Homo sapiens: one gene and its partners. The protein of the gene in region 2 binds, or shares a complex with, the protein of the main gene of each other region. Each region holds a gene or a part of one and is shown on either strand. Other genes may lie near its edges. A codon is read from its position in the direction of its gene.

The links.
Region 1: the proteins of CIC (region 2) and ATXN1 are in contact, whole or in part, in an NMR structure (PDB 2M41), measured with the Homo sapiens proteins. Residues at the interface, in NP_001291744.1 of Homo sapiens: Val943, Phe944, Pro945, Trp946, His947, Ser948, Leu949, Val950, Pro951, Phe952, Leu953, Ala954, Ser956, Gln957; in NP_000323.2 of Homo sapiens: Pro572, Tyr573, Phe574, Ser578, Ile579, Ile580, Gln581, Leu582, Ala583, Leu587, Val590, Leu593, Phe598, Ser601, Ala602, Leu608, Asp611, Ser613, Phe631, Val633, Ala638, Gln639, Val640, Val642, Tyr648, Pro649, Phe650, Phe651, Trp657, Ile683.
Region 3: the proteins of CIC (region 2) and YWHAQ are in contact, whole or in part, in a crystal structure (PDB 6KZG), measured with the Homo sapiens proteins. Residues at the interface, in NP_001291744.1 of Homo sapiens: Arg1207, Ser1208, Met1209, Ser1210, Glu1211, Thr1212, Gly1213, Thr1214; in NP_006817.1 of Homo sapiens: Lys49 (codon at 2,311), Arg56 (codon at 2,290), Lys120, Arg127, Tyr128, Gly169, Leu172, Asn173, Val176, Tyr179, Glu180, Leu216, Ile217, Leu220, Asp223, Asn224, Leu227, Trp228.

The regions. Positions count from the first base shown.
Region 1 is NC_000006.12:16,749,174-16,761,285, forward strand, and holds part of ATXN1 (ataxin-1), read right to left. Parts: intron 11,994-12,112; exon of another isoform or gene 11,965-11,993; intron 11,012-11,964; exon of another isoform or gene 10,884-11,011; intron 4,919-10,883; exon of another isoform or gene 4,870-4,918; intron 4,175-4,869; 5' UTR 4,060-4,174; intron 1-4,059. UniProt on the Homo sapiens protein: Chromatin-binding factor that repress Notch signaling in the absence of Notch intracellular domain by acting as a CBF1 corepressor. Binds to the HEY promoter and might assist, along with NCOR2, RBPJ-mediated repression. Binds RNA in vitro.
Region 2 is NC_000019.10:42,292,134-42,296,890, reverse strand, and holds the end of CIC (protein capicua homolog), read right to left. Parts: coding exon 4,684-4,757; intron 4,592-4,683; coding exon 4,425-4,591; intron 4,326-4,424; coding exon 4,032-4,325; intron 3,936-4,031; coding exon 3,610-3,935; intron 3,300-3,609; coding exon 3,055-3,299; intron 2,957-3,054; coding exon 2,802-2,956; intron 2,719-2,801; coding exon 2,587-2,718; intron 2,288-2,586; coding exon 2,156-2,287; intron 2,068-2,155; coding exon 1,700-2,067; 3' UTR 1,095-1,699; downstream 1-1,094. UniProt on the Homo sapiens protein: Transcriptional repressor which plays a role in development of the central nervous system (CNS). In concert with ATXN1 and ATXN1L, involved in brain development.
Region 3 is NC_000002.12:9,627,998-9,641,042, forward strand, and holds the start of YWHAQ (14-3-3 protein theta), read right to left. Parts: upstream 3,001-13,045; 5' UTR 2,944-3,000; intron 2,538-2,943; 5' UTR 2,456-2,537; coding exon 2,162-2,455; intron 1-2,161. UniProt on the Homo sapiens protein: Adapter protein implicated in the regulation of a large spectrum of both general and specialized signaling pathways. Binds to a large number of partners, usually by recognition of a phosphoserine or phosphothreonine motif.

The DNA of each region.
Region 1 (12,112 bases), on a different chromosome or scaffold from region 2:
ACACCCAAATTAATGTGGTTTATCAAAGTACAGTAAATGAATTGCCACAAATGAACAATTGCTACAGAGTCAAGTAGATGGCACATTGTGATTTACGCATATCATGTGAGATGAATAAATCAACGGTAGAAAAGATCAAAGAAATGCTGGAATTGTTGTTAAAACGTACAGGGCTTCACTGAAAATCTTAATAAAACTGTTTAGAGGAAAATAGAAGGATCATTTGTTTAACGAGATACCGCATACGCTGAATTTCAAACGCAGCATTCATTTTTATACACACACACATTAGATTTAGCTAAAATTAGCTCAAGTTCCTATTTTTTTAAAGGTCTTAAAGGAAGAGAGGTTTTGACAAGATTTCATTGAACTGTAGTTCAGCACTGAGTTTCCAAGGTGCCTGAGCTGCAGAAGAGTCCTTATGGCCCACGCATACATCACCCAACTCCTCCAGCCACCCAGCCTCCTTCACCCCAGATCATGAAAAGAAGGCAGACGAAGGCCATGCCACATCAATGTTGAAGCTACTCTCCGCTGCCTCTTACCTTCTCTCTACACATTCTACACCAGCTGACGTCATCCCTGAATTCAGTCATCCCCCTCCTGGGTGTCAAACTTTTTGCCAGGCCCAAGAACCCAATTTCAAAGATCACTTTTATGCCAAGGACTCCTCCAAATTTATCTTCAGACTTGACCTCTCGGCAGTTTTATTCCCATACTCTCTACTGTCTGCTCGAATCCAGAAATTCAGATGTCCACCAGCACCTAGGCTTCAGTCAAAATGTCCTGGTCAGTTACATACCGTGCATTGGCTTGTTATGTCCCAGACACACACATGGCCTTCCTCATGCTCCATCCATCTCTTCCCACAGAAATGCAATCTAGTCAGCAGAGCTCAACTCAAGTGATCCCTCCTCCTCAAAGTCTTTCCTGATCACTCCTACTCAGCGTCACTCTTCTGAATTCCTTCACTGTTAGAACACTGTTAGAACCCCATTCTATTCGTATTCATTATTTCAGAGAGTTTCTTCTTTCCCCTGCCTGACCAGGAAGAAAATAACTGCCTTCCGGTAGCTCTTATTCACTTCCATTCCCACAGCACCATGCAGTAGTTTTAAAAAAATTCACAATGAATAAATGAATGAATCATTTCTTTACATAAATAGTGACTGTGAACAAGTTAGGTCATAACTTGCTATAGCTGTATCATATTTATAAAATAACTAGAACCAGAAAGAACTATAATGTAGGTTTAAGAAAAAAACTGAATGAATATAAAAGAGTACAACATGAATGATACTATTTTTCTGCCTACGTTGAGCCGTCAATCGTGAGGACTGTAATGAGGCCATTATTGATGCAAAATGTTTAGATAATGCTTATAAGCTTTCTTTAAATGCAATCATAGAAAATGTCAGCGCTTAAAATTCAAGGTGACTTTGCGCTACTTCGTCAGTATTTTAGTATTCATAAGACACTTAAACTTGCCTAACATATTATAAAAACCTAGGTCTCTTCTCAATAAGCTGCCCATATTGACCAAGAGATATGACTTTTTGCTGCCTGTTTTTTCACAATAAAATTCTTGAGATATTTCTGTTATCACAAATGACTCCCTTTCAACACCACAGGTTAAAAAAAATGCACGTGTACTCAACCCATTTGCAATTAAACTATTTCCCCAAAGATCTAAATGTGAGGATTTTCAGCCTAGCACATAACCGTTAAAATGAGTATCATCCCTAAGAGATAAAGTAGCAGTAAGACACTCTACCTTTTTCTTTTCTTTCCTCTCTTTTTTTTTTTTTTTTTTGAGATGGAGTCTCACTCTGTCGCCCAGGCTGGAGTGCAGTGGCGAGACCTGGGCTCACTGCAACCTCTGCCTCCAGGATTCAAGCGATTCTCCTGCCTCAGTGTCCCAAGTAGCTGGGATTACAGGAACCTGCCACAATGCCTGGCTAATTTTTATATTTTTAGTAGAGACAGGATTTCATCATGTTGGCCAGGCTGGTCTCAAACTCCTGACCTCAAGTGATTCACCCACCTCAGCCTCCCAAAGTGCTGGGATTAAAGGCATGAGCCACTGTGCCTGGCCCACCCTACCTTTTTCATTCAGCTGACACTTGTAGATCTTAAGAGGCTTACCTTTGCATGTAACTTTAGGTTACATTTCCACTTAAAGAACACCTCTCTAATCCACAGCCAATAAAATGTAAGGAATCCAGTTCCATATTTTACAAGAGTATCGTGTCTGTGATGACTCTTCCCTCCTCCACCTTGTCCCCCACTGGGACTTTTTTGGCTGTTTTTCCTGAGGCATAATACTTCAGTCACTCAGGTTTTTGTTTATTTTTACTCAGACCACAAATAACCACATTTATGCATGCAATTCATCAGTTCATTTTACAACAATCTAAAAAAAAAAAAACCACACATGCATCCCATCAGTCAGAGAGTTGTGATAAATTCAGAATTTAAAATTCAGCAAAAACAAATAAAAGGCTCCTTGGCTTTGCAGAGCCGTAGATGTCTACAGGGTGGGTCCAAAGACCAAGGTCCAGGTATATTTACATATTTCTAGTCATGTATGGTTCAGGAGCAACCATCATAAAACATGACCATAACAATCAACCTGTTGAGGGATAAGTTACTTGATAGCATCTGTTAAAAGATACAAACCATACACCAGGTACTATTCTACCCACAGTATATCTACTATTTTACTCCAGTCCATCCTCACAGCAGCCCTATAAGAAAGTTCTAATATTACCTCCATCTTATACATGAATAAACTGAGGCATTGAAAGGACATAGGACTACTCAAGGTCATAGTGGCAGCTCCAGATCTTAAGTCCAGATGGGTTGATTACGGAGCTCCATGCTCTTATCTAAGATGCCAGAGAATTTATATGTAACTTAAAAATTGGCTCTTACGGTAAAGAGGCAGCTCTTTCTTCAAAGAAATCTGGTCAATTATTGTTTAAATGAACCTGTTATAAAGCAAATATCCATCTACCTCTTGAAAAATGAGTTTTGAAAATTCAAATTTTCAAATGGGAGATTTGCTAAAAGTAGAATGAGCTTCTCACCAACTAAGTCTACAGAACATAACTTAGGAAGAGTTGCTGGAAGACCGGCCGACCCAGGGGTTCCCAAACCTGTGGAGCATCAGTGCCTAGACAGATCAATGATTCCAGCAGGAAACATTCTGATTCATCAAGTCTAGGGTGGAGCTCCAAATTCTATTTTTTTAAGCTCTCCAGGTGATTCTGTTGCCTAGCCAGGCTTGGGAACCTCTAATCTAGTCTGTCTTCACAGTTTCAAGCAGGTCCATTTCCAAGGCAAATAGAAATTGATCCCCTATTTTCTATTTCACAATCTCCCTTGGTTACATACACTCAAACCCTTGTGTTCCCAAGCCCTTACTGCCCCAAGTTCTAGCAAACCTCTTTTTCCTTCCTGATTTAATTTGAGGCAATATCCTCTGGCCCTTTCTTCAATAGAGAACCATGAGTCATCACCATTGCATACACCCTATGTCTGCATGACTCTCCAGGCCAGAAAAACTTACTGTACGTGGGAAAATCAGGAAGTTGTAAAATCCAAACAGACACAAAGAAATTCAAGATTCAACAAATACTGGTTCCCCTAAACAAATAGGTCTCTGTTTTGCTACGCACATATTATACTACAACAGTAATCTAAAATGCAAAAACTGTGACTTAAGATATCTGGTAGCATAGCATTCTTAATTGTATTAAGGAAAACTGACAATTAAAATGATGAGGTTCAAGCCCCAATTGGCAATTATCAATCATCGCAAAGTCAAATGAAAGTCTTCATGAACATATAGATTAAACCAAATAGATAGATACTTTAATCGAAGTTTTAAAAAACAATCTTGGCAATTTCTCAACTTCCCACACTATGCCCAAACAGAGTTTGCAAAGAAAATGATATTCAACAGCCAACAAAGTAAGGGAGCATGGCTAGGAGGCAATTTTCCAGGTCAGGACTTTATCCTCAGATGGAAAACAGAGAGCATCGCAAAACTCTCACCTGACATGTGATGCACTTCCCTGTAGTGGCAGTGGAGGAGGAGATTGCTGTACAAGGATGACAAACAAATCTGCAGCTTGAATGGACCACCCTGGTGACTTGATGCACGATGCTCCTGCAATGGTCGAGGGAGTGCAGGAGAGGAAATCCAAAATGAAAAACAGAATAGACTGCTTTAAAAAATAAGTCCACCTTAAGTGTCTATGCACCGAAATACAAATTTTAAGAACATCACATTCGGCATTCTGTTGTATGAGAATTACACAGATCCCAGCCAGCTCAAAAGGCAGGTCTGGTTTTACTCAACAAGGCTCAGAGGGAGGCCAACATACAAAAAGGTCATCCCTTCCATCAAATTAAGAGGATGGTCTCCCCATTTGAGCCAGCCGCTGTCATTCTTTTCTCCAATGATTCTAGCCAATCATCTGATAAACACATGCTGGTAACTACAAGGAGTATCAGGTGAAAATGGGCATGGATTGAATAGTAATTGAGCCAAAGCCTAATTTTAATGTGGCATATATTATCTATCAACATGCAACTTGAAACACAATGATGAAAGTGCACAGCTATTAGCATACCAGTCCAATGGAATAGAAGAAAGGAAAAAATGCAGAAAAAAAGTGTAAAGTGTGCATTTATATTCACTAAACTTTCCACTAAACTTTATTTAAATACTGAATGTACATCTCATTTTCATTTTGCCACAATTCCTTGCACATGGTTAAGTAAAAATTTTCCATTGTATGATGAATGAGTGAATGTGTGAATGGATGAATGAAAGAAAGAATGAATGAATCTTCCATATACCTTTCCATCAGGGAGCTTGGTGCTTGTAGTAGTTTTTGTGAGGTAAAACCTATGCATAGAAACGGAAGAAGTTGAGGACTCGATCTGCTAACGTATTTTTTTAGCCCTATCCATTAAAATTATATTCTTAAATACCGGTAATTACCAATTATCCACATTAAACAGAAAAAAAAATTTTTTTAAAATCAGTAGCAGGGTTACTATAAAATCATCCCCAAACTAGTGAATGCTGGACTGATTTTCAGTCTTTGATTACTGGAGCTGATCTGCACATTTGCTTAGGCTGATTTTAAACTTAGTTTGGGTTTCCTAAGCTCACGCCAGGTAACAGTAGGAAGAAGGAGGCCCAGGTTTATATTGGATGTCAGAAAGAAACTATTCTGGAGCTATGAATATGATCTCCAATGTGAATAATCCGTAAACAGGTAAGTGAGCCAATTATCCTTGGGTACATGGCAACACATCTCGGTACTCATGATTATTTTCATCCATACACACTCACTATTTTTAAGAGCACAGCCCAGCTGGAAAGGAAAATAACTTCCACTTCTTTCCAGCACTTTTCAAAGTAATGAACAGTAGCCAAAATGTTCTTACTTCTAACTAATCCATTCACCAAGCATTTATTTAAGCATTGATTGCCTGCCGAGGACTGATATGCAAAAGAAGGAATTCTTGTAGTCCTTGGTTTCCCCACATGTGATCTGTGCGTACAGAGAAGGAAGGTAAGCTGTTATACACTATAAGGTCTTTCAGATCTTTAGAAGGCACAGTCCCTCCACCAAGAAGCCTGTTGAGTTACAAATATAAATAATGGCCAAGTTAAGTAGAAGTTGACAAAATTCTATTTAATCTTAGTACTTCTTTAAGGATGAGGAAGCAGGGAGGGAGGATCATGATGTCATCTCAAATTAAGCATCAAAATACTTGATTCTCAAATGAGGTGCAGGTACCATAAATTTACAGACAGTGCTTTTTATGAGCTCACCAGTTGGGAGAGTGTTTGCCTATATGACAATGTGTGTGCACACAATCCTGTTTACATATCACCTGGCAGATAAGGTTTTATAGAGTCCAAGTTACAACCTCCTCCTAGTTTGCTGAAGTGCAGAGGAGGGTCAAACATGATGTAAATGCCATAGAAGATTACTTTACTCTTGCATGAGTATGCTTTCTTATTTCAAAAGTATTTGTGTTGCTGCACTAGTTAGGATAATACAGAGAGTTTACATAACTTGTATTCCATCAGAGGGAAGAAGGCAAGAATACAAGCAAGGCAGCACGTATTCACTGCAAAAACTTACAAAATAATATACCAGAAAATAATTTATAGGACATTTTATACAATAATATACACCAAAAATGGAATACTCAATATTTTTAAAACCCAGCAGAGCAACATAATACAATACTATTAATATTGGAAGATTAACAAGAAAGACGGCCTAAACAAAACTGAGGTAATGGTCAGTAAGTACCAGGAGATAATGTGAGAAAGGGGAACAAAATTAAGGGCACAAGAAAATAAAGTTTGCCATACACAGTGACAGAAAAATATATTTTCTTTGAACGTTAGAAGGATAGATGCTATAGGTTAGTAGCTACAATAACTGTCACGAAAAACTTCTGCTACCTAACTCATTCAAAACTTGTCATGTTAAAGGGCACCTAAGTGTAAAAAAAAAAAAAAAGAGTTCCTCTTAGCCCAAATCAAAACATCACAATCGGGGAAACCTCTGCCCTCTTGAGTCTCAAATTCTGAGTACACTACCATGAATTTTCTGGAAAGTAATTTTCAGGTAGGATACAATTTTTGCTTACATTGTGGCAATTATCATTACATTTTCATTACTCCACAAATGGGATGCATTAAAAGTTACAGAAAAATCAATGAAACATTTCTGCTAACATGAAATATGTCAAACAAAATATAATGCTTGTTGCTTTTTTGTCCATAATTGTTCTCTCTAAACGTGTTTTGGTACATTTGGGATGGTAGTAATGCGTAATACAAATATTTATAGTACATTAGCCTGAAAGTTCAAATTATGAGCGTTATAAAATATATTACTACACTAATAAAGACAAATATCCATAAATATAATTATAAAAGAATAAAATAAAAAACTTTCCATAAGATTTGTCTAAAACCATTCTTTTTATTACTTCTGTAATTTTAAGCATTTATATATTTTTAAAAATCTCAATGTAATTACCGTTCTTTCAGCCAACATTTAAAAAATTCTGTAAAACTGACACTGTATATCACTTCTTAAAAAAATTTTGAATGAGTACATTTATTTTATTAAACTAAATTACATGAAAATAAAATGTGAACATAATTGATGACTTAAAATTCTTATCTTAGAAAAGGAAGTTCTATATGTAAGGTCCTAAAACAGAAATTATTATTTCTATTACCATTTCTACAATGTATTGCTTTCAATGCTTTTATCAAAATAAGGAGGGCCTGCTTCTGATAACCTTGGAAGTATGACCAGAACTAAATCTGTTATTTGAAGCAATTAAGCTGCACAGATCTAAATCTCTCACAGAAACTAATCATTCGAACTATTGAATTACTCTGAAAATACAGAGCAAGGAAAGTCAAATAATCTATCTCTCCCCTAAAAATAATAGCCTGTCTTACTTCACTATTGTCACTTTACCGATGCAAGTATTTAAGCTGTTCAGATCCTAATCTATGTGTTATTTTCAGATAACTACAGTTTAAAGAATTAACATTCACTCCCACATTTACCTACTTACGTGAGTTTCAGAATTTTAGTAAAATATGTTTATTGCTTAACTTTTAATAGGAAACAAAATGAGTGTTAGTGTTAGTCATCAGAAACTGTCACTCAAGGTATGTGCAAAAAAGTAAAATCCACTTGACATTTCAGAATGAAAAACAATAAAGGCACAACATTATTCAAAGAAATGTGCGTCCTTGGACTCCATAATGACAACAAAAACAGGAGTCATAGTAATGTTTACTAATATTTCAATAATCTCAGCACTGGCCTTTCCCAGGACTCCTAGGCAACTGACTTAGGTATGTTGAAACTTACAGGCATTTGACATGTAATCTTGTGGCTAAAGAGTTTCTGTTTAATCTTCCTCTAAGTGTAAAAGACAATTCAGAAGTCCTGAAGTCTAGTCGTAACATTTTTGACAAAGTGTCACTTCTGTTTACCAAACCCTCTTAAAACGAAATCCGCAAGGAAAAATATTGCCTTTGGCGGTTCCCACCAGGTACATTTTTTTATACTTATTTTCACATGAATTTATTTGTGCACTGAAAAATATATGTTCACATTTTACTGCAAGTAAAGCATTTTTCTATATGTTGCAAAATAGAATCCAGGACCTCCAAGGCATTGTGTAATATTGACATCCTTGCTTCCCATCTATTTACCACCTTATAAAAGTTGAGTAGCTAGAAGAAATAATAGCTCATTTTAACTACAGCAGTGCTTCATCTGACCAGGCCACAATGAATTTACCAACCACATAAACTCACAAAACGGTAAAAACTCATAAACCCCCTGGGAATAGAGTTGAGTAGCTCTCTCAATCCTAGCCCTGGGGGAAAAAATTTACCAGTTTAGCTTTGTTGGCCATAAAATTGTAAACTGACTGGCAGTCACAACTAAATCAAGACATAATTCTCAATTATCTTTTCTTTCAAATACCAGGGTTATGAAAATACTCCCCCCCGCCCGCCCCCTGCCCCACTTAGTTGGATTGCCTGAGCAGCACAGAGCTTCAGCAACTAAAGCAACTTTTCCTTTTTTCCTTTTTGCCATAATATTATTTCTCTTTGCTTAGCCAGCTTTATCAGTGGTGCCCTAATGCAAAGACTAGAATACTGCTTTCTAACTGCTCACTAAATTACATCCTAAAATAAAGTACATGTTTATTGTCCAAAAGCACCATGCACTATCAGTCCTCTAGCTATAGGCCTCTATCGTTTCTCGCTTAGCTAAGGAAAAAAAAATCCTTTTAACTTACTACCAAAGATCATTCAAATCACAGCCAATAGATCCAAATTAAGAATGAATACATTCAGAATGTCTGCCTACTGTCAGTACCAGTTTTTGTTATGATGGCTGTCAAGTTTTAAAATGTGACAATGGGAATATATTTTCCGAATAAGTTATTCCCCTGAGTAAACCCTTTAGAAATCCAGCCATCGCTATGGGCAATGGAGGTTCCAAATGATGAACGCTCTTCACACTTGAAAGGGTTAAGTGACTGACTGCAAGGCCAAAGGCACCAGACTGCAAAAGAAATGTTGCTTTAGTGAGCTCTGAAAGGTTTCTAACAAGTACCAAATACTTGTTGATCTGTTCACAATAAACACCAGCAGGATTGTCAGGCTCCTTTCACTGTCTGGGGAGATGCATTTACATACTGCACCTAGGAAGAACAGCTTGTTGGTCTCCTTTATAAAAGTTGAGTAGCTAGAAGCCTCATTCAGTGTCTCCCATCCAAATGACTGAAAGAAGATGCAATTGAAATAGTGGAGTCTCTCGTCTGGCTTGGGCAGCATAAATGCTGTGCATAAAACACTTGGAGTAGTTCAGGCACAAGACAAACCCACCTGAATGGACGAGGAACACTGTCTGTTGCCATGGCAGCCTGATCTAATTACATGAGTGATCAGGACTGGAGTAAGTGCACCGAAAACCTACACCACTGACAGGCAGCCAGGAGGTTCAGGGGAGCCCTTCAACCTCTGCTTTATGTAGAAGATGGCATTCAAGTCCATTTATTTGCGGAGCTGCTAAAATATTGACTGATGCATGCACAGTGAGAGGGCAATCAGAGGAGATTAAATGCCACAGCGCTAGCCGTTATGGTGCAATCCCTTTCCAAGAGTTCCTGTGCAGGATTTTCTCTTCTCTCTGGTGGTTTCCTCAGACATAAGCTTCACTCCAAAAAAAGCTCAAGTATCAAACTACCTTTACCCATCAAATAAACCGAAGGGTGGGCTTAAGGGGGGCTTCTAGGAACTGCAGCCTCCTAAAAAACCCAAACAGAAATGTCTCAGCTAACACTGTTGAAAAAGTAACTAGCTGTGCCTAAAAATAACCAAGTAACTACCCACTGCTGTGTGCAATATATAACAATGATGTTTAAATATTAAAAACAGCCTGCATTATAAAACACAAATGTCATTGAGATGTGACTACTAGATTGCCAAAGGAGAACTTATTTGCATACACACATTCCCGTGCATGCACGACAGGATGTGCAGGGAGAAAGCCACTGTAAGGCATTAGTTTTTATTCTGTGGGTGTAATAGGGTCTTCTAATTTTGCTAATTGTATCCTGTGGATCTCGCAGGGAAGCTAAGAATCTCTTCGGGGACAGAACCAGTTTGGAGGAGTCCCTACTGCACAGCATACGGTAAACAAAATAAAAATAGCTTGCCTTTCTTGTTAGCCACATCGCGCATTATATAACCAGCTTCTTCCGACTGTTTTTTTTTTTTTTTTTTTTTTTTTTTTGCCCTTACTACTCTTCAGCAATTTCCCTCTTCTCAAATATTTATATTACCCTTTTATCTGTAGGATTATATACCAAGAAAGCAAAACAAAACAGAGCAGCCACGGGCTCGAACCGAATCCCCGCCGTCCTTAGAAACGGATTTTTTTTTGTTTTGTTTTGTTTTCTGGCAGAGTCTCGATCACCACCCTACTTCCACCCCCACTAAGGTTCTTGCTCAATCTCCCTAGAAAACCTGAATTGTTTCATCCCTTTCAGTCAGCCCCCTACGTGGTCTGAAACAAAATGAAAGCACAAGCCACGGAGTTTAAGAAGGCAGCCTGAAGGCGGGGGGCTGAAGAGGGGTCGGGGCGCTGCAGAGTCAGCCAAGTAGCCAAGGAAGGGCCCCCTCCGCGTCGCGACGGCCCTCGCCCCCCGCCCGGCGCGCGCGCGCACAAATACACACACACAGTCACTCACACACTCACTCACACTCACGCCGCGCTCCGACACCGCCTCACCTCTCGCTCCGCCCGTCCGGCCCCCTTCCCTGCCCCCTGCGGGACCGGCCTGCGCGCAGCACTGGAACCACGTAGGAGGAGGCGGCGGCGCCCCCGGGAGTGGCAGAGTCTCCGGCCCGGCCCAGAGTGAACGAGCAGTGGGGCTCCAGGGCGCATCCCAATCCCCGCAGCGCCTCCTCCGCGGCGGCCGCCGCCTCCTCCTCCTTCCCCTCCTCCTGGCTTCATTCACCCTCCCAGCAGCCGCGCAGCCGTTCACTCCCGGCTCAGGGCAGCGCCTGCCGCGGCTCCTCGTCTCCTGCCGCGGGTGCTGGCGGGGGCGCCGGCCCGGACTGGGGCGCTCGCGGGCTCCCGGCTCCGGGCGGCGGCTGCCGCTGCACATGATCAGGAAGCGGCCGCACCAACAGGGCGGCGGTGGCGGCGGCGGCCAGGGCCGTCACCGCCACTCCAGCCGCGCTCCAGGCACCCGCACACCCGCTACCCCCGCGCGGTCCCCGAGGCCACCCCTCTGCGCCCCCCGCCCGGCACCCGGCCGCGCGCAAAGTCCCGTCCCGGCTGCAGGAGCAGTCCCTTCCCCGCCCGCAGCCGCACACCCGGCGAGGCCGGCCCTCCGAGGGGAGACCCCCGCCCCAGGGCGCCGAGGCCGGGCGACCACCCGCGGAGAAGTCCAGCCCTCCGTGAGACCCCCTCTCTCTCACCGCCCTCTCCGGGGAGGAGGAATGGGAAGAGGGCGGCCGGGAAAGGGACCACCCCCCAACCCCAGCCGCCGCCTCCCCCCTGCGCCACCCGGAGGGAGGAGGACATGGCTCTCCGCACTTGCGACCGGACCAGCAGCCGGGGGAGCGGGGCGCCGCCGCCGCTCTCCCCGCCCGCGCCCCCCGCCCGGGCGCGCCCCCTAGCCCGGCGGGCGCCCACCCAGCCCCTGACAGCCCCCCCGCCGGCCGCCCCTGCGCCCAGAGTGGGGGTGTCGGCCCGGGAGCCTGGAGCCGGGGACGGTTGTATGTACACACATACACACACACACACACACACACGCACACACACAGAACACGACGCGTCGATTTCCTTCGCTCCTCTTCCAGCTGTTTTCCGTGCAGCCGATTGGGGTTTTGGGTTTGTTTGCTGGTTGTTGCTTTTGCCCCTCTCGGGAGATCGGGGGAGGAGGGATTTTAATCTAAATAAGGGGAGAAGGGAATGGGGGAGGGGGGAAAGAATCGGAGGAGGAAAAAAAA
Region 2 (4,757 bases):
GTGGTGAGACCACAGCCCACTGCAACTTCAACCTCCCAGGCTCAAGTGATCCACCCACCTCAGCCTCCTGAATAGCTGCTACTATAAGCATGTGCCACTAGGTCCAGCTTATTGTATTTTTTGTAGAGAAGTGGTTTTGCCATGTTGCCCAGGCTGATCTGACTCCTGAGCTCAAGCAATCCACCTGCCTCGGCCTCCCAGGGTGCTGGCATTACAGACATGAGCCACCATGCCTGGCTGTGGTTCTATTTCTGCCCAGGGCAGGTATCACTGATCCATTAAGGCACTGTGATTCTTGTGGTTAGGTTAATTTCCACTATCACAATAGTGTGCTTCAGGCAGGCGTTACCAATCAGTAAACACTAGTTAAGACCAGCTTTCCAGCACTATCCTACAGGACCAAGCTCAGGCAAGAATTCTGGGAACATAGTGACCCAGTGCATATGCGGTTGCCCTGGCTGGAACTTCCTGGTGCTCCATCTCTAGCTTAGATGCCACTTCTGTGGAGGTGTCCTGACCCTCCCACTCCTAGTTGTCATCCCTCCACACAGGGTGTAGGTATCTTGTCACCTCAGGTGGGCACTGTGTCCACATGCTGAGCAGGAGGGGTGTCACCCAGGGGAGGTTCCTTCAAGCCCAGTTGCAGTGCAGGCCCAGGCCACATGGGGGCAGCAGGGGTCACACTGAGGACCAAGGGTATTCCAGGTAGACTAGGCTCCCTCCCACCCACTGCCACCTCTGGGCTAGGACCTCTTGGGACCTGTTTCCTGAGTACGAATGACCCCAGAGCCAGTGAGGGTAAACCATCCAGTGGCATCTTGCCTCAGGCCTTCCCCAAACTCACGCAGTCCAATGGCTGAGAACAGGGCCAGCAGGCATTGAGGCTCCCGGAGCGCACAGGCTCCTAAACTGGAGAGGGGCCATCTGGTCCACAGCAAGTCAGGGACCTGGCCTATGGGGTTCCTCTGAAGTTGGGGGCAGTGGTACTGGAATTGTTGCCCCCACCTCATGGAAAGCCTACCGCTCCATGACAACTCAGGACAGGACTGGTACAACCAACAGCCCTCCCTGTTAAGAGCCTACAGCCACACAGGTGTGTTAAACAGCTTTAATCTCGCTCATTGCGGCTTCTCGGCACAGTAAGAAATATTGCACATGATCAACATGTTTTGTTCTGGGGAAGGGGGCAAGGGCAGGGGGAATCACCTTCTTAGAAAGTACAACCCAAGTTGGGAGGGCAGAGGGGGTGAGGAGAAAACCCTCCCCGTGCCTGTGGCAAAGTGCAGGAGCCCCCACCCCCAAACTAACCTGAGTCCAGCCCCTCTGGGGAAAAAAGGGGTGCATGAACTCCCCCTATTCCACAGGCGCCTCCCTGTGGCCCAAGGCCTGCACCACCCTCCAGCTTGCAGCCCTCACAGGAGCCATTTTGCATAAAGTGAAAAGCTCTGAAGGTCACACGCTCCAGGTTATGTACAGGGGCTTGGAGGAGGGAGACTGCCCCTGCAGCCCCTCAGCTGCCCCCCAGCACCGGGAGGGAGCTTCGAGGGAAGGGGGTATTTACAAGAGGAGCAGGCCTCATTCCGCCCCAAACTGGAGAGGACGAAATGGCTTTACCCGGGAGGAGATAACCTTCCTGCCCCCACATACTGTCCATGTCCTGAGGGGGTACTATAAGTCCTGGCATCTTCTCAGGGGTCCCTCACCTGCCTGTGGCAGCTGTGGAGGGACCTGGGGGTGGGGGGGAGGGCTGGGGAGCCCCCTCCCAGCCAGGCTGTCCAGGCCCCGACTCTGGGGGTGGAGGCAGTGGCGGGGCAGCCTGGGCCGTGCCAGAGTCCGAGCTGGGTGAGGTGGGGTCAGGGCCCCCTGCGGGGCTGGGAGTGGGGGCAGGGGCAGCAGCGGTGCCAGTGGGGGGCGGTACAGGGAGAGGAGCCTCAGCTCCAGGGGGCTGCTCCGTGGGAGTGGCAGCCTGCATGATCTTCTGGCGCACCTCACGGATCTTCAACTGCAGACAAACCTTGGAGGGAAAGATGTCTGCATAGCGGGCCTGGAAGGCGGCTGTGGCCTGGGCTGGAGATAGAAAAACGGTGGGGAGCACAGGATGAGATGTACAGATAAGTCCCACCCGAGTGACCCCAAGACTCCGAGACAGGCTCACCTGACGGGAAGAAGCCATGGTCCTGAAAGAGCTGCATGACCAGGGCCCGGCGCTGGTCCAGGGTGCGCCGCAGGGAGGAGTATGGCACCTTGTCATACTCTAGCTCCCCAAGCACGTCCTCGGCTTCTGTACCTGTGCAGGGCACAGGCAGCATGGCAAGGCTGCAGCAGCGGCAGGGCCTTCCTGCCACCGTCTGAGTGCCCACCCAAGCCCTCACTGCATTCTATTTCACAGGGGAGTCAGAGAGGGGTCCTGCCCACAGTCACAGGGCAACCTAGGGGCCTGCCAGACTCCAGAACCCACCACTGACAGGCTGTGCTTCCTCCCAGCCTGGATGGACCCACCCTACCTCTCTCACTCTCTAACCGCCTTCCAGAGACCCACTCCTCTTGCAGGTCCCCAGGCCCCCAAAGTTCTGCCCACCACGGCACCTGTACGGTCAAAGGTGAAGATGTCCCCCTCGCACTTGGCACTCTTGGGGGTGTTGGGCTCCGAGCTGCAGCTGGAGCGTCTTCTCATCTTGCGCTTGGGCGAGGTGGGGTCCTCGGGTGCTGAATCCAGGTCTGGCCAAACAGAAGCAGACTCAGTGCAGGTGGCCCCAGTCTGCCCTCCACCTAAGGACCCTGGGTGCCCAATGCTCGCCTACCCGTGGAGTTCTTCCTCTTCTTGCGGTAAGAGCCCAGGATGGCCCGGGGTGAGGTGGCCAGAGACTGCAGGGTGGGGGAGGGCAGCACCTCCTCAGGCCGAAACTCAGGCAACTCAGCAAAGCGCTCTTCGAAGTCCACTTCTGACAGGACCCTGCTGGAGGGCCGGCAGGGTCACCTCCCCCGCCTCAGCCTGCAGCTGCTCCCACTCCCGCCACCCTAACACGCTCCACCAAGGCCCCAGCCCATGCTCACTTGTCCACAGAGTCAAAGGTCTTCTTCAGGGGCGGGGGCCGCACCTTCACCTTCTTGCCAGTACCAGCCGCCTCCTTGCGCTCCGGGGTGTCCCCGGCTGCCCGCCCACTGCTGCTCTCGCTGCTGCCACCAGGGGCTACAGCTGGAGCTGGGGCCGGGCTGGGAGGAGTGGGAGGCTCCCCACGATTCTCCAGGCCCTGCCCAGGGACGCGCCAGTCTGAAGATGAGCTGGGGAATTTGCTGGCCTGGGGTGGAGATGGGCAGGGAGATGGCGAACACTGAGCTCAGACTCTGGGGCAAAGGCCAGAAACAAAGAGTTGGATCTGAGCCCGCCCAGCAGACCCCTTGAGAAGGCTGTCACACGGCCTCAGGAAGGCCAAGACAGGGGCCTCAGATGGGAGAGGAGACAACACAGGCAGGCAGAAGGGACAGAGGGGACCCTTTAACCTGAGAGACACACAGGCATGGAAAGAAGAGTAGGACAGAAAAGCAAAGACGTCAATGGAGAGGCACAGCCAAGTGGCAGTGGGAGCCCCACGGCCTGCAGGCGCTCACCATGGTCTCAGGGCCCTTGGCGCTGGTCCGCTCCTCAGCAGGTGGGGGCAGTGGGGGGCTGCTCCGGGCCGTGGGAGTCCAGGTCTCTGGCAGGGGTGGAGGGGCTGGTGGTGTGGGCTGCCCCTCAAGCTCAGACTCTGGGGCAGTTGGCTCTCGGACTGGGCCAGGCTCCAGAGGCTGCCGGGGTGCAGGGCCAGGCCGCCCAGAGGCACCTGCCTCAAAGGACCCCACGGGAATGCTGGCGATGGCTGCCTTCACTTTCTGGGGGGCCTTCGGGCTGGGCCGCTGGGCCTTGGGGGCCACTAAGCTGTAGGTCATGGAACCTGCTAGTGGGGAGAAAATTGTTTGCTGAGCCAGGCCTGACTGGAGCCCATCCCCTGGGTCCCCCAACTCACTCTGCTCTGGGTTGATCTGACACCTACCTGTGGCGCTGGGGAAAGGGCTAGTCGGGGCTGGGGTGGCAGTGGCAGGGGCTGGCGGGCCCTTGGGCAGAATGGTGGCTGCAGGTGGGGTTGTGCTGGTGGCCACAGTGTAGACCAGGCTTGGGGGGGCCTGGGATGGCTGGGCCAGGGGTGCTGAGGAGGTGGGTGCAGGGCTGCCAGAGTAAAATGCTGTTATGACAGGACCTCCGGGGGCTGCACAGGCAGGCGGCAGCTGGGGACTGGGCACAGGTGACACGCCCACCTGACCGGGAGCCAGCAGTGGGGCTTGGCCTGCTGAAAGACAGAGAAGAAGAAGCAGGAGACCAAGTTAGGGCCCGGACTGCCTCAGCCCCACCCTGGGTCCCCAGCACTGCCTGCCAGGCCGCCCCTCACCTGAGAGCAGGGGCTGCACGAAGGCGGGGCCGCTGGGCCCCAGCGAGGTGAAGCCTAGAGCTACAGAGCTCGTGGGCCCGTACGAGGTGACTGTTCCAGCCTGGCTGGACGCAGGGCTGGTACCCAGGGGCAGCGCGTGCCCGCCCGCTGACTGCACATAGGTGATTCTGCCGCAGGAGAGGAAATGGGGAGGAGTGAGGTAAGCCGGCCCCGCCCCACCCCTTCCCTGGCCTCTGAGTATGGGCTCAGCTGCAATTACCTGGTGGAGGAGGGCAACAGGACCTTCTGAGGCTGAGAGGTGGGTCCAGGGAGTGTGGCTGGGCTCAGGGGCGG
Region 3 (13,045 bases), on a different chromosome or scaffold from region 2:
TGGTATTTATGTTTGTGTATCTCTCACATGCTCTCTAAATTATAAATCATCAGAGGGCAAAATCCACGGTTCTGTTTTGTTCCTCCCCATATTGCTCAGAGCACAGTGCCTGGCACACAGAAAGCTCTCAATACAGTTGCCAACTTGAAGAAGTGCTTTCCCAAGATATTTTTTATAGGTTGGCCACCAAGCCCCAGTTAGCCTCTTAAGCCATTTTATGAATATTTCATTTATGCCTTGGTGTCTCGGATTCATCAAACTAAACTATTCTATGTCTTCTCAGTATATAAAAGAGACTGTCCTAAATTCAGGGGTTGTCCCCATTGAAATGGTCTGTATGAAAGTTCTATTCTAATAACACCTGGTCTCTCTCTCAAGCTACGTATCAACTAAGCAAAACTCTTCCCCGACTTACGCCATCATAAAAAGCAGAATTTATAAGAGCCACAAAATAAAACGAATATTCCTTTGGCTCAGAGTCACCTTGCTCGAGAACAAGAAAAATCACGCGGTGATTCTGAATTGCTTCAAGGTAACTAATTGAAAAGCAATAAACTGAACAGAAATGAAATATGCTGTAAGAGTATCCAAAATACATACATAGAAAACCTTAACATATGGAATTCTTATGAGTCTTCCCTTGGTAACAGATAATGCTGTTAACAGCCATTACCATATGTTACTCAAGTTGAAGTCTACCACTACTTTCAAGTTGGCAAAATTTTTTAATACGAGCAATTCAGTCCAAAAAGCTTTTACAAGTGCTTCTTCAATGCCAAGCAGGGACTGGAAGCTAAGAGCACACGGAAGAATACAACGAAGTTTTGACTTCATAAAGTAAATAATCTTAAGTTTTCTCCACTTTAGTACACACTGTCTGCATTACTTTCTTTGCCTCTTTACCAGTTATTTCCATCAGCCATGATTTTGTCCGGATCGCCTGTCATCGTATTAGAAAAATAGATAGGTTAAAAAAGTTTCGTGGATTTTTTTTTTTTAAACAAGGGGTGGGGAACATATTCCCTGCCCCACCATTCTGATGAGATGAAGAAAGGCGGCTTGGGGGGTGGGGGTGGGGGAGGAGGCCAGGGAGAAATTATTTCTTCCATTCCCTTTTGAAAAATCCCCAGTCTAGTATGCTTGTCTATCAAAGCCCACCTAAAATATGATGTGCACAAACACATCAAAAATAAGTAGGCCTCTTGTAAAAGTGACACTTAAAAGGCAAACCATATGAGATTATTTCCCATTTTATTCATAGAAATGACTCTTGGCAGCACTGAAACATTTAAAAACACTCCTGGATATAATGCTGGTATTTCAGTTTTAAAAACTTATCCTACGGATCAAAAGATCCATGGAATGACAAAGCTAAAAATGTTCTCTCTCACTAATAAGGGTGAATCACAGCAGCCACCTACTCCACCCAACAATCGTCCTTGCTAAGACTGGACAGTTCAAAACCTGGAAAGCTTTCCTTGTCTGCTCCACACTGGAAACGAATTCACTTCAACACTAGTGTTTAAGCACAGGTGTGCAACAGCAAGGAAATGTTATTAAATGTTGAAATTTACCAGGACATTGTGTTCTTCAGATACAGCTGTGTCCTTTTCACATTTCCCGAACTCCCCTCCTCTCCTGTTTATGGGGGGTGGGGGGGAGCACAACAGATACTCTTACTTGAAAAATAAAGTATCTGTTCAGATTTTCTAAGTAAATTTCCATTACTGGGTTTGGGAAAAAATCCCTACTACATTGTCTGTAACAAAAAGGTGCCTGCGCCTTCTTTCAACTGCCTGAAGCTTGTGAACCGACTGAATACATTTAAAGGGCTCACAGATCTCAGGACGCAGTCTCCCCGCACAAGAAACTTAAAAACGCCTTTCAGTCTCGCAGAGACCTACTTGGATGTTTCCAAGTTCCATCGTTTGGTAGCTACCCAGCATCTGGGGCGAAAAAAAAGGACTTATCCTTGGAAAAGCGGCTTCTTGAGTCTCAACAACCGGAGGGACACAGTAGGGAAGTCAGGGCTCACCTAAAACCCTCCACCCCAGCAGACAGTCCGGCAAGCCCCGGCTCACGTTTGTTTCCGTGCCCGCGAAACTCTCAATGAAAAGCATCTCACAAAAGGCCTCCCCTGCTCCCCGCGCCGAGGACTCACCAGCACCGTGGTGCAGATGGATCTCAGCTCGGACTCCACTTTCTCCCGATAGTCCTTAATCAGCTGCAACTTCTTGTCGGAGGTGTCGGTCTTCTGCTCGATGCTAGAGATGACCCTCCAGGCGGACCTGCGGCCCCCGACCACGTTCTTGTAGGCCACGGAGAGCAGGTTGCGCTCCTCGTTGGACAGCTCGGCGCCCTGCTCGGTCACTGCCTTCATGCAGGTGGCCATGTCGTCGTAGCGCTCGGCCTGCTCGGCCAGCTTGGCCTTCTGGATCAGCTCAGTCTTCTCCATGGCGGGCGCGGGGCCGGGGCCGGGGCGGAGGGCGAGGAGAGCGAGGGCGAGCGCCGACCCGCAGCGGGAGGAGCCTCGAGAGCTGCGGAGGGGCGGGGCGGCGAGGCGAGAACAAAAAGCAGAGAGGGAGCGCCGTCAGACAATGCGGCCCGCCGCCCGCTTTTGTCTCCCGCACACGCGGCCGCTTGAATTTCCCTCTCCCCCGCCCCCTCCCCCGCTGGGCACCCGGGGAGGCCGCGGCCCGCGGCTGGAGGAGGCGGGGGCGGCGCGGAGGCCCCGCGCGCAGGGAGCCCGAGCCGCGGCCGCTCCCGCCACCCCCGCCCGGCCGGCCCAAGATGGAAGCGACCGTTGGCCCCGCACCTTCCCGCCCGGAGCCGTCCCTGAGGGGAGCGGCATCGACAACCGGCTGCTCTCAAGGGCGGCACCTCCGCCCGGCCCTCAATCCGAGCGCGGCCGGAGGAAGCCCGCGGGCCGACCCAGGCGCTCACCTTCACGTCTCCGCGGCCGCGACGCGAGTCCCACCACTTTGATCTGCTTTTGGCTTTAGCTGAGGACCCTCCCGTGTCAGCCTACCCCGGGGCCGAGGGGCGGTCCACCGCCCAATGATGCGCCGAGCTTCTCCCGAGAGTCCCGCCCCCAGCGCGCCGCTGGCCAATGAGGACCGAGCGCGCGGAAGGGGGCGAGGGGGGCGGAGCGGGAGGGAACGCGGAGGCTAGGAGGGTGGGTCGGTACGGGGAAGTTCGGTTGGCCGGCAGGCTGCGGCTTCGGCCACGGGGTTTCCTCCAATTAGATCCAGGGTAAAAGGACGTCACTGTTGCCATGGCGATGCCGTTACCAACTCCCCTCAGCCTCCCCGCCACCCCGGCACTTCTGGGTGCGGCACGAGACCCAGAGGCGCGCACGACCTCCTAGGCGGCGGCTGCGTCTCCCGCTGCGGATGGTGCATTGCATCTCACGGGCTCTGGCCGAGGCTGGACTTCGGAGGGTGACATATTCAGCTGTTTTAGAGCACGGGGGCCTTTCTTTCCTCCACCTTTCTATCCGTGACAAAGGTTTGGATCCCAAGACACTAAACCCAGACCTTAATGACGTTGCCATTAGGGCTCCGAATTAAGCAAACCGCATCCCCATTAAAGAAGAATTGATTCTGGAGACGGTGTCTTCAGTATGGCATTTACATGATAAATTCAAGTTTTCAGATGGGCATCCTAAAACAAAAAATTCCCTTGTGAAAAGGTAGGTCCCAGAAGATCCAGGGGAGTTTCTGTGACAATGCCAAGTATTGTGGTTTTCTTTAAAATGAGAAATGACATTAAGCACAATTTGCAGGAAAACACCTATTACTACCCCTTCCCACCCCCGCAAAAAAAAACCCTGCCCATAACATCTCTCCCCGCAAAAAAAAAGCAATTTTTATGTATCTTTTAGGCTTTCCAGGTTATGCACCTAAATACATCATTTTTCACATCGTTGTCACATGTGCACACGCTTTTGTTTCTGGTATTATTTGTGAGAGGTCACTTGAAAAGCTGAAATCCTCTCCCTGGATGTTGATTTCTGATTTTCTCCTCCTGGGGAACACCCTGCTGAAGCGAGAAAGATTCCCCCAGGCCCCTCCCATTCAGGGTCATCCCTGGCAGCTCCCTTTCCTCTTAAACCACTCCTGTCTCTCCTTGCACTTCCCCAGTTCCCTAACTCCATCCAGGTAGGGTGGCTGCCCTGCCCGTCTGGCGCGTGGTCCCTGTGCCATCTTAAGATGAGAATTGCCCTCTGGGTTCACGCTGCTATGATCCCGATTCCAGCAGGTCTAAGGAGAATGGATCATAAAGAATTTCCCATTCTGAGTGGAGACTGGAGCAAATCCGGAGAATCTCTAGAATGGGAGATTTGAGAGTGCAGACAGATGGGAGGAGAAGGTGCCGACTTTCCAGAAATTCAGACTCCCTCTTGACTGCCCCTCCCTGTCCTGACTTGTGAAGGTTGCTTTGTGCTTTGACAGACAGGAGCGGCCTGGATTGGAAAGGGCCTGTGTCTTAATGCAGAAATGCCTTACTATGTTCCAGCCTTCTAATGGAGGGCCCTGCTGTTATTTCTGGAATCCCTGGGGCCCCGCTACAGACACATGAGTGTTTATGGCCCTGTGGGCTGGGGTGGAGCTGGACACCGAGAAATCCCAATGGAAAGAATTTGCATGTGGAAGGTCAGATAAAATGCCTTCTGTATGACCAGTGAATTTCAAGCTCACCAAAATTAGAGGCAACCCGGGCAAGGGGAGAAGCCAGTGGAGGTGGATGGGGGATAGAGACCCAGGAGAGGAAATTGTCAGGGGATGGAACCTCTGTGGTAGAGAGGGACTACCAGAAGGAGCAAGCACACTAAATTCTTTGTCAGAAAGTCTAGGCTGTGCTGTGGTCTCCCCCAGTGACCTTGGGCAAGTTTTTGCTGCTTTCTGTACCTTAGTCTCTGAAATTTCTGCTTTCATTCAATCAAATATTTATTGAACACCAACTCATCTAGTTGCAATCATCTGGAATCATGGGTAAAAACTGCTTCCAACCAATAACACAGTATAAAATTGCATTTTAGGAAGATTCAGAGGACCCTCTACATAGCTAAAGGCTTCTGTGCCTGAAAGAACTCGGGTTGGAGAGAAACAAGGCTCTGGGAACTTGAAGTCCCTGGACACAGAAAGAGCTAACCTGTGTTGAGTGATTGCATATGTCAAGCACTATTTTAAGTCTTTTGCAAGAATTAACTTATCCAATCTGCTTAATGCAACTACAAAGTAGGTGTTATTATACTCACTATCTCTATTTCACAGACAAGGAAATTAAGGCACAGGGTGGTCAAGCATGACGTACAGGGCCACACAGCTAGAGAGCGGCAGAACCTTGGATATGGACCCCATGCAGTTTGGGTGCCAAAGCCCATCTTTTTAACCACTGCTGAGGCTGCCTCACCAAGTCTCCCCAGATCTCTGCTAGATGCTGTAGAGATCCTAGGATGGATCAGACCAGCCTCTGTCTTCTAGGAGCTTCACCCTAATAAATGTGAAACCTGTTAAGCATCACATCCAACATACTGGGAAGAAGTGCAAGGAACAGACAGCTAGCAAAGGGAGTACTGAGAAATTATTACTTTATTTATGAAGTTCTTATTATTTTTTCTAAGTTACCTGGTATGAAGAAGCTCCTGGAACAAAAAGGAGCACATTAACATGGAGCCAGAAGACCCTAAATTCAGCCCTGCTATTTATATGTGATTTGACCTTGGATACCTTGATCTTCTCTGAAACTCAATTCTCTCTACCTGTAATCTATAAAAATAATCCCAGCTGGGCACAGTGGCTCATGTCTGTAATCCCAACACTTTGGGAGGTCGGGGTGGGTGGATTGCTTGAGCCCAAGAGTTCCAGACCAGTGTAGGCAACATGTCAAAAACCTGTCTCTACAAAAAACATAAAAATTAGCTGGGTGTGATGGCGTATGCGTGTAGTCCCAGCTACCCGGGAGGCTGAACATGGGAGGATCGCCTGAGGCCAGAAGGTCGAGGCTGGCATGAGCCATGATTGCACCACTGCACTCCAGCCTAGGCAACAGAGTGAGACCCTGTCTCAAAAATCATCATCATCATCGCTACATCAAAGAGTTGTTTGGAGATTAGATGAGCTGTCACATAGGGAAATGCTGAGCATATAGCAAGTGTTCCATAAGTAGTGTTTTCTTCTTTCCTTCTTTCCCTCTGCTTGGAGGTGGGGTACGGCGCTGGCAGGATGCTATCCTGCTGCAAGGAGCCTTAGAACTTTATTAAATGTTTAGTGAAAGCTTATCTCTTGAATCATTGTTGTAATTAGTGCAGTTAATGGTCTACAGAATGGCTACATTCCATGTACATTTCAGAATGAATGAGTCCTTCAGGTTAAGCTCACTCTCATAAATCGTTTCAGTGATTTATTTGCTCAGACCAGTGGATCACCAGAAACTTCTTCCTTTCCTGCCATATGGCAGCTAGTTTAGTGACAAGCAAACATCTGAGTGGGACTTTTCACCCAAACTCTTCATATAATTATTATTGGTGCTTCTGTGCAGTGGGCAGAGAAAGTTGCCCCCCAACTCTGGCCTGTGGGTGCTAAATGAGGTTTCGTAGAGTCACACACAGGCAGGGAAATCAAGGGAGCCTGGTCAAGAAAGTTTTTCTACATATTCCTTAGTTTGAAACTTGATTCACTTTGTTCAGGGTGATGGTTAGTTGCATGTGTCAACTTGGTGGGTCACAATGCCCAGATACTTAGTCAAACACTATTCTGGGTGTTTCTTTGAGGGTGTAACATTTAAATCGGTGGGCTTTGTTGTTGGTGGTGTTTTTTTTGGTTTTGTTTTTTGAGACAGAGTCTCGCTCTGTCACCCAGGCTGGAGTGCAGTGGTGTGATCTTGGCTCACTGCAGCCTCCACCTCCCTGGTTCAAGCGATTCTCCTGCCTCAGCCTCCCGAGTGGCTGGAATTATAGGCGTGAACCACCACACCTGGATAATTTTTGTATTTTTAGTAGAGACAGGGTTTCATCACGTTGGCCAGGCTGGTCTTGAACTCCTGACCTCAAGTGATCCACCTGCCTCGGCCTCCCAAAGTGCTAGGATTACAGGCATGGGCCACTGTGCCTGGCCTAAATCGGTAGACTTTGAATAAGCAGTTTGCACTCCCTAATGTGGGTGGGCCTCATCAAATCAGAAACCTGAAAAGAACACACAAAGAGCATCCTTATTTGAGCAAGAGGGAATTCTCCAGCAGACTGCCTTCAGACTCCATCCGAAGCGCCGGCCCTTCCTGGGTCCCCCATAGATGCCTTTAGAACTAGAGAGGGAACGTGAGCTCTCCTGGGTCTACAGCCTGCTGGCCTGCAGGTTTTGAACTTGCCAGCATCCATAACTGTGTGAGCAGATTCCTTATAATAAATCTCTCTCTCTACACACGTACACATACATATAAATACATGTGTGTATTCTGTTGAATGCATTTAGTAACCTTTTTTTTTTTTACCCAACAAATGATATAGATATCTTTTTTTTTTTTTTTTAAATGGAGCCTCACTCTGTTGCCCAGGCTGGAGTGCAGTGGCATCATCTCGGCTCACTGCAACCTTTACTTCCCGGGTTCAAGCAATTCTTCTGCCTCAGCCTCCTAAGTAGCTGGGACTACAGGCACATGCCACCACGCCTGGCTAATTTTTGTATTTTTGGTAGAGATGGGGTTTCACCATGTTGGTCAGGCTGGTCTTGAACCCCTGACCTCAGGTGATCTGCCCACCTTGACTTCCCAAAGTGGCTGGGAATACAGGCGTTAGCCACCACGCCTGGCCAGATATGGATATCTTTTAATAGCTTTTAATGTATGTCTGCAACATATCAGTCTCTCTTCTCTCCCTTACCAGACCATGAGCCTCTTGAGGGTAAGGGTTTGTTTGTTTGATTGTTTGTTTGTTATCTTGTATTCGGTGAACGCTCAACAGCTGGGTAAACTTAGGTATTATAGTTCCCACTGGCTGACTAAACTGATGCTCAGAGAGGTTCAATTACCTATCCCAATTGGTAAACTTTAGAGTAAAGACTTAAAAACAGGTCTGTCTGATTTTTATCTTCTACTACAACAAACAAGAATCTGTGCTACCTGCAATGGAAGACAGAAGCTCCAGTGTTTGCTGGCCTGGGAACAATGTTTAGTTATTTGAGGTTGGTGGGTGGATGAATATGTATCTACCCCTGAGTCAGCAACTGATTTTATTTTCATACGGAAGGCTCTGTTTTTACGCTCGACACATCCAGCAGCGAAAGAGGTGCCTTCTTGTCCCTTGTCTGTTCCCTTTAATTGTCTACATGGTTCCCCTCCTCTCCCACTGCCACCATCAGACTGCTACCTCCCAGTGGGAGAAGTTACATCTGACCTCCATGTCCCTGGTGACTTTACTGGGCCACGGAAGGCATTCAGTGAAGGCTTGTTTGGAGAGTGGATCCAGACCATTCAGGACGCATTTCCAATAATGCTGACCATTGGCATTGTGTGCTTAGTATGTGCCCAACCATATGCAGAGTCACTAGAATAGTAAAGTCACAGAAGGAAAGCACGCAAGGCAGAGCTGTGTCTTCAGCAGATGTTCCGTAGATACAGGATTGCATCTGCTCGGAAGAATACACCCAGAACCTTCAAGCCAGAACAGAAGGTCCCTGAGCCATCAGAAAGCTGTCGCAAGATCACACACTGATGCTCACACATGCAAGACGTAGAGGAGTGTTCTCCAGGCCCTCACTCAGACTCAATTTCCTGCTAATTCATTCCACAAAATATTTAAAGATCTTCAACGTGCCAGATGCTGTCCTAAGGGCTGGGGTTTCCAGCATGATTAAGATACAGTCTGTGCTTAGAAGGAGCTTGACCGAGAGCACAGAGGTGGGTGCCTAACCTGGAGGTCAGCAAAGGCAGGGAAGATCCCCTTTCTCTTCAGTTGCAAGATGTTCAGTTACCAGGTTTCCTGGTCCACAGCAGTCTAGAAGTGGTTACTTAGAAGGTGGGAGCAGAATTAGTCCCGACACTTCATCTGAAATCTACTCCACATTTCCGCAGATGATTTTGAGTAGAGTAACAGCTAGGGCTTTGAGGAGCCCATATCTATGGTCTATGCAAGGCAATCAGTGGACAAGGCAGAGACAACAAACCCATAAAGAGCTCATGAAAAACCTGGAGAGGCCAGGGCCAGTTAGCATCGGGGTACATGGCCCATATATCCCAGGCAGGCCCTAGGTACGCAGCAATTAGCCTTAATCATCACAAAAAAAATGGTCATTATATTTCATATTTTTTGCTTCATATTATATGTAGACATATACCTTCTCTCTCTGTCTCTCTGGACATATATGAGAGTTGGGATTTTTTTAAGTTTTGGTACATAATCATCTCCCTAATTATGACTCATCTCCAGACAATTCGAGATAGTTGAAGAGATGAATGACCACAAAACAGCTAGAGAACAATGCACACAGGAGTTGATTGTGTGCTTCTCACAATAAGTGCTATGGGAGTTGAGAGAAGGGAAACATGAGTGTGGGCTCAGGCACCAGAAGGCTATGGAGTGAAAGGGACCCCTGTGGGGACAGCAACTGAGGTCATGCCAGTCTGTGTTTCCATCCTTCCTGCTGCCCAGTGGAGGGGCCCCTGGGAAAGGGGAGGAAGGCACAGGTGTTTCTGTTTGTGCTGGAATTGCTTTTGGACAGGGCTGACTCCCGAAAAGGTGGATCTGGATACAATGTCGGAATGTGACCAGCCAGGAGAGCTAGGCAGCCATGGTGCAGAGGACTCTTCTGCCTCTCCCCCTCCTGCCCTAACCAGCTCAGCACCAAGCACATGGGCACTTTAAAAGCACAGGCCATGCTGGGAGACTCACTGTGCTACCCTCAACCCCTTCAGCAGGAGCAGCTCTGTGAAAAGTGCAAGTGTGACCTTCATTTTGCTTTGTGACTTAAAACCCTTCACCGTTACTCAGCTGCAGCTCAGCATGGTGGTTGGACTCAGGAGCCAGATGACCTGGGTTCAAATCATGGCTGCACTACTCACAAGATATGTGACTTTGGGCAGGTCAGCTGGCCGCTCTGTGCCTCAGTTTCCCCATTTATAAAATGGGGATGATGGTAGTAAGAGTCCTACCCCGCAGGGTTGTTAGGAAGCTCCACGGAGGAAGGCTGGTGAGGAGCTCCCCCACTCCTCTCCTGTCTTCTCTCCTGGCTCCATTCCTTCTCTCTGCTTCAGCCTCTTCTGGGCTTTGCTCTGCTGCCATCTTCCCCTGGCTACCTGCTCATCTCTCAGGTCTTCAAGGAAATGGCACTTTCTCCATGGGGTGTTCTAGGGCTCTGAGCCCCTCTCAGCTAGGTGAGCTCCCCCATCCTGGATTCCCCAAGCAGGTAGTTACTTGATGTTGCTTCCCCTGGTCCACTTGTCCAATAGCTGAAGGTATCTCAGAGAGGGCGTGCTACGTCCATGTGATTTGCCTGTGTAGCCCCAGTGCCTAGCAGAGTGCTTGGCAGATACGCTGGGTGCCAAGAAAGCAATGGCCAAATGCACGAATTCACAAAGGATGGAAGGAGGAGTCCATAGGCCAGTGCACAGTGCCCAAAGGACAGAGCTGAGGCTGCTGGTCAGGACAGCTTCAGGCTCTGGCCAGGCTCCAGCACACAGCTGGAGGCACCCGTGACTCTAGCTGGGAGGGGCTGGAAGATCCAGGCAGCCCCTGACCGCCCTCCTTCCCCTTAGTCATGTCCAGTTCTGTAAACAAATTCTCAACTGCACCAGAAGGCCTGACAGTTAAGAGAACCCAGTGAAGAAACCTTTTGCAGAGAGAGAAAAGAACCCTTTTGAATGTGATCAATCACGCTGATTTATTTGGATGATTTCTCTTCTGGATTTCCTTAAACCAGGGAAAACCCAGGTAAGATATTTGGGGCCCTCATTCATCTAGACAAAATACATAAAAGTTTGTTATATCAAAAGTCACCTCTGGAAAAAAAAGGAGTTTTGCCAACCCACTCAGCTATTAATATGAGATGCTCTCTGCCTAGGGACAGCAATTGCTATAATTGATGCAAACGATCCCAGCCACACTCCCTGATCCTGGTTCTGAAACTCAGAGATGCAGCTGACCAGACTGATGTGGCCAGCCTCACTCTGAAGGATCCTGCAGCAGACAAATTGCTGGAATGTGTTCAGACGGAATCCAGCTGCTACAACCGTCACACAAACTTCCTGAAATAGAGGACAAAAGGTAGCAACTTGTCGCTTCTTGAGCCAAGAGATTTAGGACATGAGACCAAATGAGAGAGATTAAAATAAAAAACGCAAGAAGTTAGTGAAATGAGGATTTAGCTCACCAGGCCAAAGCAGGCAGTCTTGGGTCTTTGCTGGACAGTTGTAGCTGCCATATAAGCTGTCCCTGCCAGGGCTGGGATCTGGAGGCTGATGCTGAAACCTCGGCCTGGAAATGATGCTGATGAAGCAGGGCTCTGACAGCCCCTGCACTCTCAGAGGTCTGGGCAGCACAGATGAAATTATCACTCCAAGATCCTCAAAGCATCCAGGAAAAAAGCACATCTAGGAACATTAGCTGAATTTTGTAGAACACTAGTAAGCACCTAGTAGATGCTCAGAAAATGCATATTTTCCTTCCCTTTCCTGAATTCCAGGGGCCTTGCTTGGTCTGTATTAATTACTATATCAGAGTCCTTATTTGCAAGCGAAAGAAACCAACTCTAGTGGATTTGAATATAAGACTATTACTTCTTACTGATTGTGAGGAAGGCTGGTGAAGCAGGCTTATCGAATGAGCAGGCGCTGGGAGGGTGTGCAGCTAGAACCAATGGCCAAAATCACCCTGCAGACCTCTCCCAGGGAGATCCCTGTTGCTTCTGCCACTGAACAGCAGACATCAGACCATGCTGCACTGACTCCGTGGCACCAGGTCCTGGAACCTGGACGCCGACACGGTCCAGGACCCTCTACTCTCATTTGAAATCCATGACACTAAGCCTTGCTGCTGCCCCACAAAGGAATTCTCCACAGTCCCTGCTGCTTTGGGTCATTCACTCCAGATTCAAAATCCTGGCTGTGGTGTCTGGCCAGGTCCGAGTCACGTGCCACGCCAAGGTTCAAGATAAGCTAGGGGGAGTAAGTATCTGGAATGTACACCTTTCAAAGTGAAAAGTGGGCTCCACTTCCCACTAAGGTTCATAAAGCGGGGAATTCTTCCAACAAAGGAAGGGGCTTCAGAGGCTGGGCAGCCTGAAAATAGCACATCCCCTGCAGTTATACTTGGGTTTCCAGTCTACGTGGCAGAAAAAAAAAAGCAAAAGCCATGCATGGACAGTGTGCAAAAGCTGGAGCCTGGGAAAAGCCTTAGCCTGGATCTCATCTTTCTCTCTCTGGAAAAGGTTGGGGGAGCTTTGCTGTCATTGATGTCCCTACCTGGAAGGCTTTTCCCTCCCCAGACTTGCCCTCCTCCGTGACCCACAAAGATCTCTCTCTTGTTGAAGTTGCGATTCTACCTCTAGATTGCATCACACTTTTTAGAAATGAATTACTTCATTTATGTAGGTCTTGTCAAGCTCCCCCAGGATGAGGACAAAACTCGTATTCATTAAACAGTTAATAAACATTCACTGAGTGTCTGCTAGGCCTTGGGGAGACCTAGGGGACAAAGACATGGCCTGTGCCTTTGAGAAGAAGGTCACATCGGGTGCCAAGTGTGTGGAGGTGTGAAGGCTTTGCAGAGGAGATGACTTATTTAAATGGGTCTTAAGATGTTCCCAGCCATTGGTAGAGGGAGAGGTGCATCCCAGAGAGAAGGAACAGCATGTACAGGGCAAGGAGTCATGAGAAGGCGTGGCGATTTTGGAACAGATTTGTTGGGATATGGTGTGCATGTGGGCAGCAGGCAAGGAGGTGGGAGGTGAGGTTGTTGCTGAAGATTGGGACCACACGGCTGGGCACGGTGGCTCACGCTTGTAATCCCAGCACTTTGGGAGGCCGAGGTGGGTGGATCACGACGTCAGGAGTT